Linked DNA regions of Homo sapiens: region 2 is linked to region 1. The links come from fine-mapping of genetic effects on gene expression. Tissue or cell type: whole blood. Region 1 holds a variant in brackets; the other region holds the start of a gene. All regions are shown on one strand. Distances are between the middles of the regions.

Evidence for each region. PIP is the estimated chance that this variant, and not a neighbour inherited with it, causes the effect.
Region 2: ZNF655 starts here. The variant in region 1 is fine-mapped to the expression of ZNF655 in whole blood (TOPMed, PIP above 0.99).

Annotation. Positions count from the first base shown.
Region 1 is chr7:99,918,723-99,926,824 of GRCh38, reverse strand. It overlaps TRIM4 (tripartite motif containing 4), which reads left to right and starts at 7,295. Exons shown (of 6, transcript NM_033091.3): 1 at 7,295-7,816. The coding sequence starts at 7,424. GJC3 (gap junction protein gamma 3) reads left to right here. Exons shown (of 2, transcript NM_181538.3): 2 at 3,222-3,559. The coding sequence ends at 3,280. It overlaps LOC101927610 (a long non-coding RNA gene), which reads right to left and starts at 7,222. Exons shown (of 2, transcript XR_001745296.3): 1 at 6,998-7,222; 2 at 1,511-5,641. RefSeq lists enhancers at 6,924-7,033, 7,274-7,353, 7,384-7,433 and a silencer at 7,564-7,723. The variant C/T (reference allele first, on the strand shown) is at 3,162.
Region 2 is chr7:99,554,465-99,562,566 of GRCh38, reverse strand. ZNF655 (zinc finger protein 655) reads right to left here and starts at 3,925. Exons shown (of 3, transcript NM_138494.3): 1 at 3,780-3,925; 2 at 1,872-2,034. The coding sequence starts at 2,007. LOC105375422 (a long non-coding RNA gene) reads right to left here. Exons shown (of 3, transcript XR_927801.4): 3 at 6,610-7,831. It also overlaps a transcript of FAM200A not described here. RefSeq lists enhancers at 3,851-4,120, 4,151-4,280.

The DNA of each region.
Region 1 (8,102 bases):
ACTTGCAGTCACTATCCTCTACCAGTGACAAAAGTATACAATTAAATAGCCTTTAGTATATTCAGAGTTGTATATCCATCAACACTACCAATTTAATAACATTTTCATCAACTTAAAAAAACCCTACCCCCTCATGTTACTCTCAAACTCTTATTAGCACCCAAAACATGCAACCATCATATGGTTTTGTCTCTATTGGTTTTCCTACTCTTTCATACAAATGGAATCATGCAATATGTGGTCTTTCATGTCTGGCTTCTTTCACTGAGCATAACTTGAGGTTCATTCATGTTGTGGCATGTTTCAGTATTACATTCCTTTATATGGTTGAGTGTTATTCCACTGTTAGGATATACCACATTTTGTTTAAGGAGATACCACATTTTGTTTATACATTCTTCAGTTTCAGGACATTTGGGTTGTTTCCATTTTTTGGCTCTTATGACCACTGTTGCTATGAACATATGTGTACCACTTTTTTTTTTTTTTTTGGGATGGAGTCTCACTCTGTCACCCAGACTGGAGTGCAGTGGTGTGATCTTGGCTTATTGCAACCTCCACTTCCTGGGTTCAAGCGATTCTCCTGCTTCAGCGTCCTGAGTACCTGGGACTACAGGTGCGCACCACCACACCCAGCTAATTTTTGTATTTTTTGTAGAGACAGGGTTTTGCCATGTTGGCCAGGCTGGTCTCAAACTCCTGACCTCAGGTTATCTGCCTGCCTCAGCTTCCCAAAGTGCTGGAACAACAGTCCTGAGCCACCACACCTGGCCCCAGTTTTAGTGTTGTGTAAACACATGTTGTCAGTTCTCTTGCATAAATAACCAGGAATAGAATGTCTGGGTCATAAGGAAACTCCACGTTTCAACTTTTGAGGAACTGCCAAACTCTTTTCCACAGCAGCTGCACTATTTTTACATTCCTACCAGCAATGTGGGAATACTTTTTATTTATCTATTAAATTCTAGCCATCCTAGTGGGTGTGAAGTGGTATCTCATTGTAGTTTTGATTTGCACTTGCCTAATGGCTAATTACATTGAACATTTTCCATGTGCTTAGTGGTTATTTGTATATCTTCTTTGGAGAAATGTCTATTCAAATCCTTTTCCCATTTATAAATAGAGTTTTTTGTATTTTTGTTGTTGCATTGTAAGAGCTCTTTATATATTGTGGGTATTAGATACTTATTGTATGTATGATTTCCAAATATCTTCTCCCATTCTATGATTGTCTTTCACTTTCTTGATAGTGATGCACAAAAGTTTTAAATTTTAATGAAGTCTAACATCCAATTTTTTCTTTTGTTGCTTATGATTTTTGTGTATTACCTAAGAAACTATTGCCTAATTCACAGCCATAAAGATTAATGCCTATGTTTCCATAAGAGTTGTATAGTTTCAGCTCTTACATTTAGGTCTCTGGTTGGTTTTGAGTTAATTTTTGTGTATGGTGTAAGATAAATGTCAAACTTTATCTTTTGCATGTGGATATTCAATTGTCTCAGCACTATTTCTTTTTTAAAAACTTTTTTTATTTAAATGGGTACATAGTAGGTTATATATTTATGGGGTATACAAGGTATTTTGATACAGGTATGCAATGTGTAATAGTCACATCAGGGTAAATGGGGTATTTATCACCTCAAGCCTTCAGCCTTTGTTATAAATAATCCAATTATACTAGTTATTTTATAATGTACAATTATTTTTGACTGTAATCACCCTGTTGTGCTATCAACTACTAATTCTTATTCATTCTATTTTTTGTACCCATTAACCATCTCCACTTTCCCCCTACTACCCTTCCCATCCTTGGTAATCATCAGAGAAGATATACAGATAATAAGAAAGCATATGAAAAGATGTTTAACATCATTTATCATTAGAGAAATGAGAATGATTGACTTTAGGGTTAGGGAAGAGAAATACAAGATAAGACTGGAGGATTTTGTAGCGGTAGAAAGTAAGAAAGTGCTACTCCCTCTTCCCCACAAAATGACAGGAGTTTGTCAAAGGGACACAGATGTCAACTGAAAAAGTTCCCAATGGCCAACACAGGAATAATCTGAGCAGTAAAATAAACAACATAGTATTGGATTATACCCAAAGTATAAAATAGGAATCCATGAATTCATAATATAAATAATTGAATAAATAGGAGATAACTGACAAATTTCTCATGCAGAAGAATGTAGATACTCCACCGCAAGGAGGGGAAATATAACTACTCACTTTTTTTTCTTTTGAGATGGAATTTTGCTCATCGCCCAGGCTGGAGTGCAATGGCAGGATCACTGCAATCTCTGCCTCCCAGGTTCAAGCAGTTCTCCTGCCTCAGCCTCCTGAATAGCTGGGATTACAGGCGTGCACCACCATGCCTGGCTAATTTTTGTATTTTTAGCAGAGACGGGGTTTCACCATGTCGGCCAAGCTGGTCTCGAACTCCTGACCTCAGGTGATCCACCCACTCAGCCTCCCAAAGTGCTGGGATTACAGGCGTGAGCCACCGTGCCCACCAACTACTCCCTTTTTAGGCATGGGCTGCACATAGTGACTTCCCACTAAACAGTAAAATAGGGGGAGGGGAAAGAATAACTTTACAGGGAGAAACCCATCAAATACTACCTCAGCCGGGTGATCAAGGTTAACATCAACAGTGATGAGCAATGTTGACAGCATGTGCCCCGGATATGATGTGATGACGGTTTTTGTATTTTCCCGTTCTAAAATTTCCATGGGGCTATTCTTTGTATTTTCTATTACTTCTCTGAGACTTTTAAACTTTCCATTTGAATAGCAGCTTTATAGTCTTGATAATTCCAACATGTGTGGCAACTTACATTCTGCATCTGTTACATTTTTTCCCAACGTGAGTTGAGATTTTCCTGGTTCTTCACCTGCCAATTAATATCGATTGTATCCTGGACATTTTGAATGTCATTAGGATGCTCTGGGTCTTGGTTAAATTTGGTGGAGGATGTTGATATTTATGTTTTAAAGGGTAATTAACCCATTTGGGTTCAAGTCATAAGTTTTGACCAGCCTTCTGAGGGTTGTGGTTCCAATGTCAGTTCAGTTTTCAAAGCCTTTGTAGTACTCTTCTGATAGGTCCCACATGGGTGGCACCTAAAGTGTAACCCAGGGTCCTTGGGTTTTGGGTA[C/T]GCACTGTGAAAAAGTTACACACTTGTAACTGTTACATCTTGAATTTTTGTTTTAAAAAGTTCCAGGAAGAAGCTTAGCCCAGGAAAAACAAAGACCAGTTGGACCCAGAGATGCCTGAGTTGGAGATGAACTTTGGCCAACTTTCCTCATCACCATACTTAAAATCCTGTCCAAGGAGGAGCTTATTCACCATTTTCTATACATGTGACATATGTAGCAGCATAACCGACAACTGGGACTGCGCTGCCTTGACTCCACCTCTACATACAATGACTCAGCTAACCAGACTAATAAAAGCCATGTTTGCACCATTGCTCAGGGAGGCATTGCTTTGGGGAATTATTCCCAGTGTCCTCCTTACTTATCGCAAGTAATAAAATCCCCCTGGGAAATCCTCCTTGGTTGTGGTCATTGGACTGTCCCCTGCCAAGCAATTTAACCCATTCATTGTGTGGGTAACAAAAGGCCAGTCTGGGACATGAGATCTGGGTCTACAGTTTAGTTCTCAAAGTCTTTGGCATGCAATTTAGGACCAGATTCATCATACCAAAAAAGGGAGATAGTCTCAACAGAATTCTCAAATTACTTAAATATCAGAGGCAGTGTAGAGAAGGAGTACTTGGTGGTATGGTAGGTTTTCTGACAGGAAACAAAAGATGGAGGTAAAATGGAACCAGTACTTTCTTTCTGAGAATACTGACTGCACCAACCATAACATGAAGCGAAGGCTATATCTCCCTGAAGTAAGAAATGTAATAAAGGAAACTTTCAGAAATAATAGATCATCTGGAGATGTTGGGCAGTGTATTTGGTAAGTTATAACTACCAGGTATCAATACAATAAGCTTAGTTTGAATACAATAAGCTTAGTTTCTTTTTAAAGAATTTATCCTGCTCTGTGTTCTCTGAGCTCCTTGGATTGGTTTGGTGTCTTACAAATTTTGGAAATTCTCAGCCATTATTTCTTGATTTTTTTTTTTTTTTTGAGATAGAGTCTTGCTCTGTCGCCCAGGCTGGAGTGCAGTGGTGTGATCTCAGCTCACTGCAAGCTCCGCCTCCCGGGTTCACGCAATTCTCTTACCTCAGCCTCCCGAGTAGCTGGGACGACAGGTGCCTGCTACCATGCCCGGCTAATTTTTTTGAATTTTTAGTAGAGACGGGGTTTCACTGCGTTAGCTAGGATGGTCTCGATCTCCTGACCTCGTGATCTGCCTGCCTCGGCCTCCCCAAGTGCTGGGATTACAGGGGTGAGCCACTGCGCCTATTTCTTGATTTGATGTTGATATTTTCCCACCAGTCTTGGATGCTGTGTTCTGTTTCTGTCACTCTTTTTGTGTGTGTGTGTGTGTGTGTTTCAGCAATTTCTATTTACCTACCTTCAAGTCTGATTTTTTCCTCAACTGTGTTCAGTCTCCTAATGGGCCCATGGAGGGCATTCTTCATCTCTATTATTATATTTTTTATTTTTATAGTTTCCATTTTATTTTTCCTGATAGTTTCCATCTATTTGCTAAAATCACCCATCTGAGCTTGCATTTTGTTCACCTTTCCCCTTAGGGCCTTCATCACATTAATCACAGTTATTTAAAATTCTCTCATATTTCTAATGTCTATGTCTTATGAATCTGGTTCTAATGATTGTTTTATCTCTTTGGACTGTGTTTTTTCTTGCCTTTCTGTATGCGTCTTTTTTTCTTTCTGTTAAAAGTTAGTCATGTTGTATTTTTTTTGCTTAAATTATTTTTTCAATTCTCTCTTCACAGTATGAAGTAAAGATTGTTTTTATGCTTGGAGATGAGTGTGTCTTTCCTTCTGCTAGGCCTTTAGTGCTCTTGAGTGCATAGCAGTGGTTCGGTGGTATCAGTCTAGTCAGAAATTGGGCTAGGTTTACAGTTTGTTGTTGTGGTTATCCTCAGTGCACAACAGACTTCAAATTTCTCTAGAGATAGCTTATGTGTAGGGTGTGGACTTTATTTTGAAAGTGTGTTTTAAAGAGGTCTGTATGGATGTCAACTCGATGCAGAGTGGACAGTGGTAATTTTGTAATATATCAACTTTGCTAAGCTAAACTATGTTTCCCAGAATTTCCTTTCCTTTTGTTTCTGGTTAGAATAGCCCAACAGAGACATGGTTGTGTAAGTCTTGAAGGGGAGAACTGAAGCATCCCTCCAGTTTTATACTTGAAACGGTGGTGCAGGGACACTAGGTGCTACTGCGGCTCATCTACTTTGTCACCAATCAGCTGGTTCACCTTGTTGGGATGGGGCAGAAGCTTTTCCCTGAGTCTTCCTTCACCTTTTTTGATTCCTGAGCTGTGTGTGTGTCTAGTCCTGTGGCAAAAAGTGTCAGCTCCTCTAGCAAGGATACTCATATCTTTAAAGTTGGAGACAGTGAAAGAATGACCAGCTCGTGTCTTAGGTTCCAACTCATTTTTGCTCTTCCCTACTTTATGTTCATCTTCCCTTCTTAACTGCTTGCCCTGCGAACATAAAGAAACATAGTGATTCCACTTCTCTGAATGAACCTTGGCTGGTATACAGACTTATAGACATTTTGTGATGGAGAAAAATTGTTAATTAGGGAGCCTCACTTAGTAAAGAAGGAAGGTCATCTCTGGTATGGCAGGAATAAAGACATAAGGATTTTAAGGGATTTACCTGAAAAGATTTAAATGACTACTGTAAGGGGAATAAATACTTTGCAGGAATGCTGAAACTTCTCATTCAATACTTAGGTAAACATATAGACACACAGATGCCATAAACACTCATGGTAAACATCAGTAACTGTTAAGAGCATTCCTTCCTGCTTGGTCCCTATTAAAGAACCAGATCCCTTCTCCATAGAGTATTCCAATTTGCAAAGAAAATCCATTCATTAGTTGTCCAATTTAAATGTTTTAGAAATATTCAGTGGAACTTTCATCAATAACCCCCAAACAGATACCTCAAGAACCCCTTTTTCTAATCATTTAATCATACTACTTACTGAGAAAAATTATTATAGGAAAGGCAGTATTTGATATTGGGACATAAAAAGAATGAAAAATCTGTTAAATAAGCAAAAGCCCATTAGCCTGAGGCTGTCTTGGTACTTGAGTTCCCATATAACAAAATACAACCTGACTTAGTATGTAAACGAACTGAAGCCTAACTTACTTTATTTTTTATAACAGCTGGGTTTCAGCCAATCACGGCCGAGCTTCAGCAAATAACAGACAGCCAACTGATCAGACCATGCCCCAATAAGGCAAATGCCTCATCATATCATTGTCAAATAAGGCAGACACCTAGATGTTAGCTAATGAGGTGATTTCTCTACTTTGCTTCCTATAAAAGCTAGCAGGTCATACTGCTGGACAGAGCTCTCTGAACCTCTTTTGGTTCTGAGTGCTGCCCAATTCATGAACTGTTCTTTGTGCAAATAGCTTCTATTAAATTTGTCAGTCCAGAGTTTTTTTTGTTTTAAACAAATATTCACAAGAAAAGGAAGAAAGTGGGAAGAATAAAAAGCAAAGCACCTCAGAAACACAAGATCGAAAATCCACTTAAGGGATATAGATAATTCCCTGAAACAGGTGAGCATATTATTTGTTGAAAGCCTCCATGGATGTTCTTTGGGATAGCAAAATGGTTGCTACTTTTCAAATTGGATACCAAAAAGGCAATGTATCTGCATCTCAGAATCCAAATCATCCCCACGTTAGCCAAACTCCAGGCCTACCAACACAGATCCTTCAAGTCTTCCTGGCCTTCCAGGCCCCTAGGCTGCAGCTCGCCCAGAACTCCTGGGACTCTAAAACTTAAATCGGTCTAACCAGCAGGCGAACACAGACCTGAACCCTCAAACTTGGAAAGAAAGATCATAGGCACCTCCCCGGTTGGCTCCCCCAGGGACCACAACGTCCGGCTCTAACGCCTTGCCCAAGTCCTCTGTAGCTTTCCACAGGCATTTCTGGGTCTCTATAGCTGTTTGGAGGAGCCACTCACCGGTCCCGTCCTGCCCCGCGCCTAGGCCTGAACCAACCCCCTCGCGGTTCCGGCGCGGATACCCAGCAGCTTCCGGTCTTGCGCGCTCAGGCCGGGCAACGTCCGTGCGTTCTTTTTGGGTCCTGAACCCCGGAAGAGAAACTGCGTTGTACCCTTTTACGTGAGGCGGTGACGGCGGTTCGGAAGTCGTCTGGCCTCCCCGCGGCCGCTCGCAGCTTGCTGGCCTCTCCCGCGCCTCACGTCGGACTCCGTCTCCGCGGCAGGGAAGCAGCATGGAAGCTGAGGACATCCAGGAGGAGTTGACCTGCCCCATCTGCCTGGACTATTTCCAGGACCCGGTGTCCATCGAGTGCGGCCACAACTTCTGCCGCGGCTGCCTGCACCGCAACTGGGCGCCGGGCGGCGGCCCGTTCCCCTGCCCCGAATGTCGGCACCCATCGGCGCCCGCCGCGCTGCGACCCAACTGGGCCCTGGCCAGGCTGACTGAGAAGACGCAGCGCCGGCGCCTGGGCCCCGTGCCCCCGGGCCTGTGCGGCCGCCACTGGGAGCCGCTGCGGCTCTTCTGCGAGGACGACCAGCGGCCAGTGTGCCTGGTGTGCAGGGAGTCCCAGGAGCACCAGACTCACGCCATGGCACCCATCGACGAGGCCTTCGAGAGCTACCGGGTGAGCTGGCCGTCGCGGTGACTATGACGGGGCTGTCAGTGTTGCCCGATAAAGTTTACTTAATGCTCCTAAAAGAGCCACGAAGTGGCTGTCATTCCTACTGGAAGCATGAAAAGCCCCTGAAACTCAAAGAAGTTAAGCAAAACACGAATTTCAGAGCTAGGGTTAAAACTGGAATGAGAGGAGGGGAGGTGCAAACCTCAGCAATCATTGTGCAGAATTTTCAATAAACTGGCCCTTGGGGAGCTCATAATAAAGAAAAACATACTGAGAGGGTGTGTGCCGC
Region 2 (8,102 bases), 360 kb after region 1:
CCTTATACTTAGGAAGAAACAAGAAAGTAAAGAAATTCAAATAGATAAACCGAATAATAAGGAAGTCCTTACCCAGTGAGACCACGTTCCCATAATTCTCTAACATCACTTCTCTGTAGAGGTCCCTCTGAACAGGGTCCAGGTATCCCCATTCCTCTCGAGTAAGGTGCACAGCCACATCCTCGAATGTCACAAACTCCTGAAATAACACATCCTGGCTGCTCTGAGGAATGAGAACACTGTAGCACCATGGCCAGAGAATGAAGATCATAGAGAGGGTATCCACTGTGTACTTACGTTGAGGAGGAGGGAGAACAGATTAGAACCTACGGAATAAAGCCCATAACCCTTAAACATCTAATAAGCACCCATCACACAACCATGGACAAAGAGAAAACAGAGTTTGCTCATGGCACTGGGGAGATGGGAAGTTGGTTTATGTGAAGTCCAGGTCTCCGAAGAGGATCAATTCCCAAACTGGAGTCTGCTATTGAAAAAAATTCCAGGCAAGGTCTACAGATGGGATGAGAGAGAGGCCACACTCCATCAGTAGCAATAGTCCCTGAGGAAAAGCAGAGGGTTCCTCAGCTCACCTGGTACCTGGCTGTCAAGAGCGCAGCTGCCTGGTCTCCTGGGCTTCCCTCACGGGGAAGAGCAGGCACCTGAGGAACAGGTGGAGCTGAGGGAGGAGAAAGGAGTGAAGAGTGAGAGCAGCCCTTTCCCAGGGCTCCCTTTCAGAGGAGGCCTCTCCAGCCCAAGGGGTGTCAGCAGGACCCTCCTCAATACTCTAGTAAAACCAATGAACATTTTTCAGGTATTGGGTGTGTCTACTCTGCTTCGTCTCAGTACTTGCATGCCTTATGCGTGTTTTGACCTGTGATACAGGATTTTCTTAGGAAAGCTTGTATTTCACTTTATCTTCATCACATGACAGTCCTCTTACAGAAGAGTAAGACTATACCTGTTTTGCAGATGGGCAAAGCAAAGCATAAAGACTTGTGGGGACTTGTCCTGGGCTAGGGTTATTTAGCAGACTTCTGACCCTTTCCAGGCACTGTTCTAGACACTTGATCAGCGTTTCTCTTGTGAATGGGTGCTGTCTCAACCAGTGTGTAAGGCCCCCAAGAACAAGAAAGGGTCATCTGTTTCCTCGAAATCTTTTCCACAGTCCCACAATCCCCCACAGCACTCTACACATTGTGGCACTTGATCTGTGTGGGTGACACACAAGTTATTTCAGGCACTAGAGTTAACCACAGGCAATCTAAGACACAGCTCTTATAAAACAAAGGAAGAAAAAGACCAACCTACCTATACGATACAGCAAAGTGTGACTGCGTAGTCAAAATACAGTATATATACATTCATACAGGCATTGTGTTCAACCAAGGAATTAAATGGTTGCTTCCTTGACCAAATTTAGTCTAGTCACAAAACACTGCAGTTACAACAGAATGGATGGCAGGTGACAAAGCAAAGAAAAACTAAGTGAAGGGAACAGGGGAAAGAAAGGTCCTGAACCTAAGAGGAAGTGAGAGCCAGGAAAGGACTGTGAGATGTGGCAAAAGCAGCATATCTTAGAAATTATTCTGGATGTGAGAACTGGGATGAAGTGAAGGTTGCCTGAAGGAAAAACCACCACAGCGAGTAAGCAGCCATCACTCTGCTTATTTGAGAAAGATGAGCTATCCTTAATAAAGGGGCTCAGACTAGGACTGAACTGAGTCACATCTGCCCCCTCTTTCATTCCTCCCTCTAGGGACCATGTTCTTATTCCAGTTCTTGGCCTCTCTCAAACCAGGCCCAGGAGCCCCCTCGGGAGCCCCTCCGCACTCCCACTCTCCCAGACGGAAGTGCTTTCTCTGCCTTACCCCCAGTGAGTCCCTGTTCCATGTCGGTGTCCTGCACAAACTGAGGCTCTGGGGACAGACACTCAGACTGGGTCTCCAAAGACTGAAACTGGACCCTTGGTGACCCTGCTGCTTCCTGGGCTGGTATTTCCTCCATCACTGCTCTGGAGGACAATGACCATCACTGCAAGGTAAGATTAAGAGAAATTACTGTAATAAGTTAAAGCATTTCATCATTTTATATCGTCAGGACTTTGCAAAGGATCTTACACACTATGGATATTCAATAAAAATTAGTTGATAATGATTAACCACCCTAAATAAGTAACAGAAAAATGGGGCCAGGCGCAGTGGCCTGTAATCCCAGCACTTTGGGAGGCTGAGGCGGGAAGATCACTTGAGGTCAGGAGTTCAAGACCAGCCTGATCAACATGGTGCAACTTCTTCTCTACTAAAAATACAAAAATTAGCCAGCGTGGTGGTGCGGGTCTGTAATCCCAGCTATTCGGGAGGCTGAGGCAGGAGAATTGCTTGAATACAGAAGGCATACGTGGCAGTGAGCCAAGATTGCACCACTGCACTCCAACCTGGGCAACACAGTGAGACTCCGTCCCAAAAAAAAAAAAAAGAAAAAAAAGAAAAAGAAATATGGATATGCTTCAGCTTTAAATACTTAAGAACCAAATCATAGAAGAGTCTCTAATTTGGAATTTGTGGCATTAAAAAAATTAACACGGTACAATTTAATAGTGTAAAGCTTTCTGTGGAAACTTTAAAATATTTAAAATTGGCCACGTGCGGTGGCTCAAGCCTGTAATCCCAACAGTTTGGGAGGCACAGACGGGTGGATCCCTTAAGCTCAGGAGTTCCAGACCGTCCTGGACAACATGGTGAAACCCCGTCCCTACAAAAAAAAAAAAAAAAAAAAAAATTAGGTGGCCCAGGCCTGTAGTTCCAGCTACTCCAAAGGCCAAGGCAGGAGAATCGCTTGAGCTTGGGAGGTAGAGGCTGCAGTGAGCTATGACTGCGCCACTGCATTCCAGCCTGTATGACAGCGTGACAGCCCACCTCAAATAAACAAAACAAAATATTTAAAATTTACAATCGTCTTTGGAGGCTCAAGTTGGTGCCCAGAGAAAAATGCTAGTTATGATTGCTCATTTTATTTTAATTTTGTTTTAGCAGAGATGGGAGTCTCGCTATGTTGCCCAGGCTGGACTCGAACGCCTGGCCTCAAGCGATCCTCCCACTTCGGCCTCCCAAAGTGCGGGGATTACGGCGTGAACCACCGTGACAGGCCCGCGTTTACGTAAATAAACTCATTTAAATAAATAAAACAGCAGGCCCCCTAGGAAATGTCTTGGTAACACCGTCAGCCCACTCCGATTTACTACACGGGCTTGGCGAATAAAACTCCACTTTTGGGGTCAGGCCCTTCGCTAACTCAGACCAGCTAGACCGGCCTTTTCCCGGAATCCTGAGAGCAACGCAGGTAAGAGCTGCGGTTCGAACAGGTTTGAGCGGCGTCCTTCAGGCCCAAGGACGCATGAGGGTGCCGTCCCCCTCCCACCACCCTCGCCCTGGGCCCCTGCCCGGCTCCCAGCTCGGTCCTCAGAAGGCCTTGCCCGGCGCTGCCCTCCTCCCACTTCCCTTTTAGGCCAAGGCAAAGTCCCAAAAGGACCAGTGAGGACATACAGACCAGCTCGCACCAGGGCACGGTCGCCGGCTCCTGACGGCGGGGCCCTCGGTCCGCGAGGTGAATGAACCAGGGCTGAAGAGAAACAGGCCCTCCTCGCACCCGGGCCTCCGCGCACTCTCGGGGAAGCGAACTACCGTCGGCCGCGGCCGGACGCCGCCTCCTTCTACTCCCGTGAAGGCAAAACAAGCTGCCACCCCGCTGCGACCCCAAAACGGCTTCCGGGTACTCACCGAGGGGAGGGGCGGGCCTGGCCGCTGTCCTGTCACCTACACACTCGCGCTCGGGGCCACCACAGCCTCTCCCGGGCCGCTGTAGACAGCCCCGAGGCCGGCGCTTCTCGGTGGCACTTCCGGCGACGGAGTGCAGGGTCCCGAATGAGGGCCCCCCCTCCTCCGCCCAGGCATGAGGGTCCCGGATGTGGGTGAGAGCCCCGGATGAGGGTCCCGGATGTGAGTGAGGGCCCCGGATGTGAGTGACGGCCCCGGATGAGGAACTCGGAGGAGGAGCTGGGCCCGCGCGTCCATGATTCGAAGGCTCGTTTTCGCAGCTTTTCCACGTCTTTTTCCGGTCCCACTGCCCTCCATGCTAACTCACTGGGCGTCTCTAGCCGTTATACCAACAATGACTGCGACCAGTGTTGGGAAAGCGCCCCCTGGGCCCCTCCCTGACGCCAGCCCATCCTTGAGACTCCCTGCAAGGAGGCGGCCCGACCCAGTGGGTGCGTGTCGTGGGGTGAGGAGGAATGGCCGACCTAATGGTCCCGCTTCCGTGAGTAGCACAGGGGTGCCTGCTCAGAGTGTAGTACAACGCTGACAAGTAGAAGGCGAGGATTGCGGGGCCTGGGTGAGATGGGACCCACTAAGTTGTGGGATCGAAATCTCAGTAGGTCCTTGGGGAAAGCGGGGACGGGAGGGGAGATGAGCAGATTGGAATAGAACCGAGAGAGACGGAGGAAACTGACAGTTGCGTCCCTGGTGGGAAGACTAAAATCTATGCAGAAACAGGGATAGGCAAAAGCATTGTGCACAAGCGGGACAGGCAGAGCGCCGGGACAGAAACCCTTAGGACATTCTGACACCTTGCTGAACCTGGATCCTTACAGAATATGTCTTGTAGGTGAAGCTAGATCTGCAAGGCATAGGCAAGCCTCTTAGAGAATCAGAAAAGTGATTTGGAAGGAACTTCAGCTGTTACTACTTTGTTTAAGCAAATCAAATGCTGTTCTTTAATGTTACTGGACGTTTCAAATTAAACACAAGAAAACCTGAAGTGTGGCATTTTATATATTTTTTCAAAATGTATCAGCTTCTTGGAGATTCTGATATTCCTTTCCTCTCTTTATCCCTAAGTATCATTTATCCAACCTAAATTCATACTAGGACACAATCTCTCTAGTCTGCAGTGCCCGTCACAGTGGAGTCAGGATCGGAGAAAGAAAATGCACTGCTTAGTCCATTTCATGCTGGACAGCTCCAATTAGAAACTTTTCCTTGTGTTGAACAGAAATACACCCCTGGTGATGTCTATCTATTGTTCCTGTTGACAGGTCCCCAGGACAATAGATGACACAGTACTTCTTCCTCTTCATAACGGCCATTTTAATATCCTAGGAGAGCTAAAGGTTTGGAGTTCTTCCTGAGTTGCCATTTCCCCACCTAGAACCCTTCACAGGTTGTACCTATTAGCAATGTGATGGGAAACCATTTCAGCAGCAAAGGTGAGTGAGCTATGGCAGTGAGGCACATCGCGTCCAAGTTTTAGCTGACTCAGGCAATTGGCTCCAGTGAGAGGACCACAAAAGGTACCCACTTAAAGAGGCCACTTCCCACCAGTACTCATCAAAACATAACAAAGTGTTAAGAAACAGCAGCTGCTATTTTGCTTTTGAGCAAAATTTTCTTTTAACAGTTTGCCAGATGACAGAGGTGGAAACAACTCAAAAAATTGTTACCTTTTTTCGTTTTTGTCTTTTTGTTGTTGTTGAGACAGAGTCTTGCTCTGTCGCCCAGGCTGGAGTGCAGTGGCGCGATCTCAGCTCACTGCAACCTCCAGCTCCCAGGTTCAAGCATTTTCCCTGCCTCAGCCTCCAGAGTAGATGGGATTACAGGTGGGCACCACCACACCTAGCTAATTTTTGTATTTTTAGTAGAGATGGGGTTTCACCATGTTGGCCAGGCTGGTCTCAAACTCCTGACCTCGGGTGATCCGCCCGTCTTGGCCTCCCAAAGTGCTGGGATTACAGGCGTGAGCCACTGCACCGAGCCTGTTTTGTTTTTTTTAGTGCAAATTAACAAACTGATTCTAAAGTTTATATAGAAATGCTAAGGATTTAGGATTGCCAAAACAATTTTGAAAAAGAATAAAATTGGAATACTTGTATTTTTTTAAGATTTTTTTCCTAAAGGTACAGTAATCAGGATGGTATGGTATCAGCATAGAGACAAATAGATCAACAGAGCAGAACAGAAAGTCCAGAAATATGAGGTTGAATTTCTTAAAGAAAAAAAAGTCCAGAAATAGATCTAGATACATACAATAGCTGATTTTTTATAAATTACTAAGGTAATTCTGCATCTAGCTAAGCTGAAAATTAGGCCGAGGATCTGTTTGTAACAGTGACAGTAATGTAAAGGAGACCAATTGTGCAGACTCGGCAGGTCCCCTGAGTCAAAGTCGTGGCTCATACAGGGAGAGGGTGGGATCCTGAGACCTGTTCTCTGTCACAGTGTAGTCCGCAGGAACTTTACCCAACCATCATGATGGTCCATATATTGATGACAAATGCTAGTAGTACCCAGTGAGCAGCAAGTGACAAGGGTCATAAATATCCTAGTAAGACTTCTTACTAAGGCAGTACAGAAACCTGAAGATATGGGCACTTATCAAATGGATGAAGTTTTGGTGGGGCCCAGTGGTTTGGGGACATCACCCAAAGGTAAAAGAAAGTTGTTCCACCTTGCACCCTCTAATCCCAAAAAAATTGGTACAGGTCCTGGTGGGCCCCTTTGGATTTGGGAGGTAGCATATTCTGCACCTGAGAAAACTGTTCCAACACATGTATTAGGTGACCTAAAAAGCTTCCACTTTTTATTTATTACTATTTTTTTTTCTTGACACGGAGTCTTGCTCTGTAGCCCAGGCTGGAGTACAGTGCCGTGATCTCGGCTCACTGCAACCTCTGCTTTCTGGATTCAAGCAATTCTCCTGCCTCAGCCTCCCTAGTAGCTGGGATTACAGGCGCCCGCCACCATGCCCAGCATTTTTGTATTTTAGTAGTGGAGGGGTTTCACCATGTTAGCCAGGCTGATCTTGAACTCCTGACCTCAAGCAATCCACCCACCTCCGCCTCCCAAAGTGCTGGGATTACAGACGTGAGCCACCATGCCTGGCCAGCTTCCACTTTTTATTGGGGCAAGAGAGCACTCTATAGTAAATCCAAGCAACAGTGCAAGCTTACTTGCAAATTCAGTGGTTCCAGAAATATCCTTGATGGATACAGGTGCTGTATGGAGTTGCTGGCAAACCCCAATAAGAGTGTGCATTCGTGTGCTAGGGCTCCTATAACAAAGTACCACAAACTGGGTGGCTTAAACAACAGAAATCTGTTGGTTCACAGTCTGGAGGCTAGAAGTCAGAAATTAAGGTGTGGTTCCTATTGAGGCTGTGAGAAGGAATCTGTCCATGCCTCTCTCCTAGTTTCTGGGGATTTGCTGGATATATTTTGCATTCCTTGGCATCGTAAGAAGCATTTTCCCAGTCTTTACCCTCATCTTCATTTGGCATTCTCCCTGTGTACTATCTCTAAACTTCCCTTTTTTATAAGGATACCAGTCATTAGATGAGGGACCCACCCTAATCCACTATGACCTCATCTTGAAGTAATTACATCTGCAATGCCTCTATTGCCAAATAATTTCACATTCTGAGGTATTAGGGGCTAGAACTTCAACCTGTTAATTGGGGATGAGGTGGAGGTACAATTCAACCCATCATAAAGAGTCACAGCACAAATACCTAAGATTCTGGAGCAAGGTCATGCCTTCTAAGGCAAAAAAACAAAACCCACGTTTCCAAACTCCCAGGTCAGTTACCTCTGCTCTACTGCCACCTCTCCCATAAACTTACTCCTATGGCCTTATAAAAGTTCCCTACAACTAACTGATGGAGACAGAAGAGCCTTGGCCTCTGCACAGATTGGGGATTGGGTCAGTTCAGCATGTTGGCATCTTCCAGAAACAGACTGTTCTTCATTACAGCCCCACTCGCGTTGCCCTGAAGCATACTGGTGAAGAAAAATTATCTCAGTGAGCAATGGTACATTTGGTCACCCATGCCATATTTTGGAGGAGGTAGCCTAAGGTAGGGATATGCATTGACTCCTAGGCAGTGATGAATGGCTTGGCTTGTTGGTTAGGGACCATCTTATTGTTTATGCAATAGGCTTATGAACAGAGACCATGGTAGCAGGGATAGAGGCTGTGCGTGGTCCCAACAATATGGGCTACCTCTTATTTTTCTTTTTTTTTTTTTTTTTTTTTTGAGACGGAGTCTCG